Linked DNA regions of Homo sapiens: region 1 is linked to region 2. Evidence: fine-mapped expression QTL. Tissue or cell type: prefrontal cortex. Region 2 holds a variant in brackets; the other region holds the start of a gene. All regions are shown on one strand. Distances are between the middles of the regions.

What was found. PIP is the estimated chance that this variant, and not a neighbour inherited with it, causes the effect. A credible set is the group of variants that fine-mapping cannot tell apart.
Region 1: RASD2 starts here. The variant in region 2 is the best candidate, but not a certain one, in a credible set for the expression of RASD2 in prefrontal cortex (GTEx, PIP 0.87).

What each region holds. Positions count from the first base shown.
Region 1 is chr22:35,539,532-35,542,291 of GRCh38, reverse strand. RASD2 (RASD family member 2) reads right to left here and starts at 1,461. Exons shown (of 3, transcript NM_014310.4): 1 at 792-1,461. RefSeq lists enhancers at 1,111-1,673, 1,674-2,236, 2,237-2,760 and a silencer at 1,770-1,989.
Region 2 is chr22:34,712,713-34,715,472 of GRCh38, reverse strand. No RefSeq gene overlaps it. Among named protein-coding and RNA genes, the nearest start is that of LINC02885, 280 kb to the left of the region's middle. The variant G/C (reference allele first, on the strand shown) is at 1,362.

The DNA of each region.
Region 1 (2,760 bases), 830 kb before region 2:
GCTGCCTAGAGCAGCCTGGTGAGGCTGGACTGGAATGCAGGCGCAGGTCTTGCAGGGACCCCATCTTGTCTCTGACACCACAGGAGGCTTGATTCACTGGCTCCTGACCTGGCTGCTCCCTCCCAGCCTGGCTTCCCACCTTCCATGAGGTCTTGGACAACATCCCCTGTCATCCTCCTGGTGCTGGGGACAAGGGGAGGGGAGGGCACAGAGAGGCCTCCAGAGCTGCCTTCCGGGCCCTCCAAGACAGCTAAGTTACAGGAAACCCCTCCTGGGAAGGGAATCATCCAGGAAACTCACTCTGCACCAACCCAGAAAAAGCTCAAGAACTCTGGATAACGAAGGAGCTTCTTAATCTTCCTTCCCCACCTCCAGGTAATGCAGGCTGCAGCCAGCTCCAGAAGAGGGACAGGAGTGTTTGTGGTAGTTGACTCGTCTTCCCTGAGCCCCCGTTTCCTCCTATTTAAATGGGCTATTACTCTAGCTCTTTAAATGCAAAGCCTGTGGCACCAAAACTAGCACATAGTAGAAGCTCAATAAATCTTTCTTTCCTGGGATTAAGTCAAGGGTATAGCACTCAGTTTGACACATACAGTAGGTGCTCAACGAATTTAATTCTCTCTAGGTATGCAAAGTTGCCAGACGATCCCGGCACATAGTAGGTGCTCAATCAATTTCACTTTCTCTGGTCATCTAAGGAATCACTGAGCTTTCCTCCTCCAAGCCTCTACCCTTTCTTCCCGGCTGCTCCACTTCCCCCAGATGCCCAGCTCTGTTGGGGCGTCTCCTACCTGGGAATGGCGGGCCGGGCCTCTGGCACGGCTCAGAGAGCTGCCTGGAAGCGCCGGGAGCTGCGGGGAGCTGCCTGCTGCTCCAGCCGCCGAGCCTCCCAGAGTCTGTGGTGGCTCCCGGGTCACTGCGCGGGGATCCTCCCCTGCGCTGCTCGGGACGCCGGGCTGGGCGCGGCCGGGCAAGGAGGCGCAAGGGGCAGGTGCCCCATGGGTGGGCTCCGAGGGCTCGGCGGGGCCCGGGCAGGGGGCGGGCTCCGGCTCGCCGCCGCCGGCCCTGCCCTGCCCCGAGCCGGGGGCCTCCTGCTGAGCCAGGTGCCCGGAGGCTTGGGGACGTCCGATCCGGGGGTCCCCGCCTGGGGCTCTCGGGCTGGGGGCAGAGAGGTAGGGGCGACTCCAGTGATGAAGGAGCAGCTCCTAGAGACTTGGGGAGGGGGGGTCCTTTGGAGGTGACTGTGGGTGCGTGTCCCAGGTGGGCGAACCCTCCTGGTCGCCTATGCCACCTTCTCCGCCTGCCCCAAAGGGGGTCGCTCGGATGGGGGGTATCGGGCTGCCGGGCTCGGCCGCGGCCTCCTTCTCTGCCCGCGGCTCTGCAGCTCTCCCAGCGCCGGAGGGACGGCTTCTTTCTCCCCGCGCGGCGACGCCAGCAGCTGAAGGAGGAGCAGGGCGCTCTGCTCTGCGCGCGTGTGGGAGGGGGCCTTGAACGCCGCCCCAAGGTTTCGCAGCTCCAAGTTAGCATCAACCCGGCTCCTCCTCCTTCACCTCCTCCTGTCCCCAGATGAGGAGAACTTTGTGTGTGGCCCTGGGTTCTCCCTCCTTCCCCCTCTCGCAGGCAGATGCCCCACTGTCACCCGCAGGGCGAAGAGGTCGCTGATCCCTCCGAAAGGTGGCAGAACCCCAGGCTCCTGATGACGGTCCCAGCGGCACCCTCCCGCGCCCCTGCGAGCGTCGCCCACCTGCTCCTTCGGCCCCCCGCGAGCCGCGCCTCCCGCCGCCCAGCGCCAGCGTCTGCCCCCCAGAGCCCGCTCGCCCCGCCCCACCCCGGCGCCCCGCCTCGCCCCGGCGCCCGGCCAATGGGAGGCGGGTCCCGCGGCCCGGCCCCGCCCATCCCTTTCGCGGCCTCCGGGGCGCCGCGGTCTGCGGTTCCGCGTGTCCGGGCGCGTGGGGCCGGGGCCGCTGGGCGCGCGCACCTTGCCCAGAAGGCGGCCCGGGCCTCGGAGGCTGACGTCTGCGCACGCGCTCACACGCACGCCCGGCCTGGCCGCAGGTGACCCGCATGGGGTCCGGCCGCCTGCCCACTCGGCCGGGGTCTCCAGCGGCTTGCGCCCGGCCAGGTCGAGCGCGCCACGGTTCCAGCGCCCTCCTCCTTCGCGGAAGTCCCCGGGTGCCCTCCCAGGTGTCCAACCTGCCTGTCCCAGCCGCCGCCTCCCTCCCGAGCTCACGGTGCCCACGGGACCCTGCGGACTGGCACATGGGCCATGCACGTGTCGCCCAGAGGGGCGGGGAGTCACCTAGGCTTAGTAGCCAGAGGTCTTCGAGGCATGCGAGTCTCAGAGACCACGGCCGACGGGGACACACCAGGTGCCTTGAGCATTGCGTCTCCTGCCTGCATTCTCCCTCCCCACCTTTAAATGAGGGGCTTGACCTAGGCCAGACATCGGGCCTTCTCACTGGGCCATATCTCCACACCACTTATTACTTAATATATTTTTTAAAATATCAGATCCACTTTCCCCACCCCTTAAACACGTTTTTTTAGAGAATCATTATATCACTGCCTTAAATGGGAAATCAGTATCACTTGCCATAAATAGAAAGTAAGAGTTAAAATAAGCACAGTGAAAACAAAGCAAGGTTATTAAATTCCAGCTGGAAACCGTGGCCTGCCAAGGCTTGAGATGTGTGCCCTCAGTGAAAAAGGGAGATTGGCAAGGTTTGGAGAGGTGTTAAATACCCATTAGCACCTAACAGA
Region 2 (2,760 bases):
CATGACTAAGATGTATGTCTTACTGGGGTCATGGTTAAAAGAGTTTGAAAAGCCACTGTTTTTAAGCACATGCCTTTGAGTCTTCGCTGAAATCCACTTAAGATACAATAATGCAAGTCTCCTAATTTCTCAGAACCTTCTCTGTTAATTTCATACTATCAGGTTCTCTCTCTTCTGCTCCTGTTCCCACCCTTCTCTTCCATTCTTTTGGCACTTACTTAATTTATTTCTTGTGGTTATTCACATTTGTAGGGATAGATCGATAATTATTTAATGAATAGACTTAGATTTATTGAGGACCTACATCATGTTAAGCTCTGATGATTTGAAGGTGTTTTAAAACAAATAAGATTCCCTACCAAAAATAGAGTTTATAATTTAGTAGAAGAGACAAACAATGAAAAAATTACAAAAATAACTATGTAATTACAAACTTTGATAAGGGATATCTGAGAGAAGTTCAGATTGCCAGAAGAGTATAAAAGTGGTGTGTGTGTATATGGACAGAGGTGGGATGTTTCTGAACAAGCTGGGGTGGGATAGCATGGGTCAGGAAAAGAGGTATTCATTTTCTAAGTCTGTTATAATAAATTACCACAAACCTGGTGGCTCACAACATCCAAAATGTATAGTCTCACAGTTCCAAAGGCTAGAAGTGAAAAATCAAGGTGTTGGTAGGGCCATGCTCCCTTCGAGGCTCCAGGGGAGATGCCTCTTCCTAAATCCTTGTAATTGCCAGCCAGCTTTGCTGTTTCTTGCCTTATAGCTGCATCACTTAGATCTCTGCTTCTGCTGTCACTTGGCATTTGTGCCTGTGTGTATCTTGTGCATTCTGTACTCTTTTTTTTTATAAGGGCATCAATCATTCGATTTAGGGCATATTCTAATTTAGTATGATCTTAATTAATTACATCTGCAAAGACCCTATTTCCAAATAAGATCTCATTCTGAGGTTTCAGATGGACATGAGTTTTGGGGGACATGATTCAACCCACTACAAATGGCTCTCCTGAGCTAAGAGCTGGAGAGTGAAAAGGGAGATTAGGCAAAGAAAGTGGTCCAGAGAGGGGGAAGAGTGTGACTGGGAAGGTGTGTGGGAGAGGAAAGCAAGTGAGGTCAAAGCCTCAGGGATGGGGAGGTTGAATGTGGTATAACTGTGGGCCCCCTTATGGGGATCAGATAGTGCAGGGTCTGATCTGCTGTGTTAAGGGGTTGGGTCTTAGGATGAGAAGCAGTGGGAGGGCAATATCTTATTTGTACAGCTGGCCTTGACCATGAAAAATGCTTTGCCTCATGGATGCTGAGGATTATTCTGTATTCTTGACATATATCTCCTGTTCTTTTAAGTCCTACCTGAACAG[G/C]CCTTCTGAGAAAATTCCTCCCTGAAATCCCCATTCTCTGGAGCACTCCATCCTTGGGAGGTGGATAAAATTCATCACATCCCAAATTAAGAGATGAAAATGAATTGTGTTATCACTGTCTTGCTTCTTACTCTTCAGCCACCTGGATTGGGTGTCCCATCATAGTACCCCTGCAGGACTCTGTTCCCTCCATCTCAAAACCTGTTACACTGCAATGAAATGGACTGCTGACTTGTCTCTTTTTCTACATGTAAGTGTGAATGTCCCCAGGACAGATAGTTGCTAAGCCCTGATGCCTAGAACACTGTTTAGCAATAAATATTTGGTGAGAGAATGAAGGAAGGAAGGAATTGGAGGGGCAAAATTTTCTCTGTCAAGGAGGCAAAGACTTTACTCCCCAAAGCAAGAAAATGGCAAAAGAAATCTTGTATGTGTTTCAATGTTGTCTCTGTAGACCATTTTCACCTGTCTTCCAGAAAAACTGTGGCCAAAATGGTCTTTTGCCTCCATCCTGGGGCAATCTCTCAGGTTACACTGAATACACTCCATGAGTGTGGCATGAGCACTAAGGGAGGAAGGGCACTTCTGATAGAGCCACTTATTCTACTTTGTGGTCCAATACATGCCCCATGCAGCTTGGGAGGTGAATAAAGTTCATCACTTCTCCTATTAGGAGTTGAAAATGAATTGTGTTATCACTGTCTGGCTTCTTACTTTTCACCCACACACCTGCTTGGGAATTTTTAGCTTTAATTTTGTAAGATCCACACTTAGGATATATAAGCTGGACTCACTGTCCTGTTTGGATTTTATTGATATGCAGAATTACTGAATTTTCCTCCAGAAATCCTCCGACATCGCCTCCTCAGTACCCACCTTCCTTCCAGGCTAGATGAAAACAATGTTTCATTTCATCCACAGATTGAAAGAAATCAATTAGATGCCAATGTCAGTGTGATTCAGTGGGCACTAGGCAGAGGCTGGGGGATTGTTACTGGCTCTGTGGGTGGATAGGAAAGCAAAAGGCTGAGAAATAAGAATTACCAGGATGGAAGCTGTGAAAGTGTTTTTTAAGATGATGGCACATAGCACACCAGAGCTATTAGCAGAGGGAGAGTCTGGCATCTTGTGAAGACACAAGTAAAAATATCCTTTTGGCATCCAGGAGTCCTAGAGATCTGATTCTACCCTAACAATTCTGGCTTGGCCCCCAGGTCCCCTCTGAGGCTCCTAGCAATGGATGCCGGGAAGGTGACTGAAGCTCTGAGAGCCAACTCTTCGTGAAGCACTTCAGGCTTTTTTCATCTGCAGGCTCAGCTAACCCTCTCAACGGCTCTTTGAGAAAGGCCAGGTTATGTCACAGACAGATCAGGGCTCTTAGGGTCCAAGAGGTAAGTAG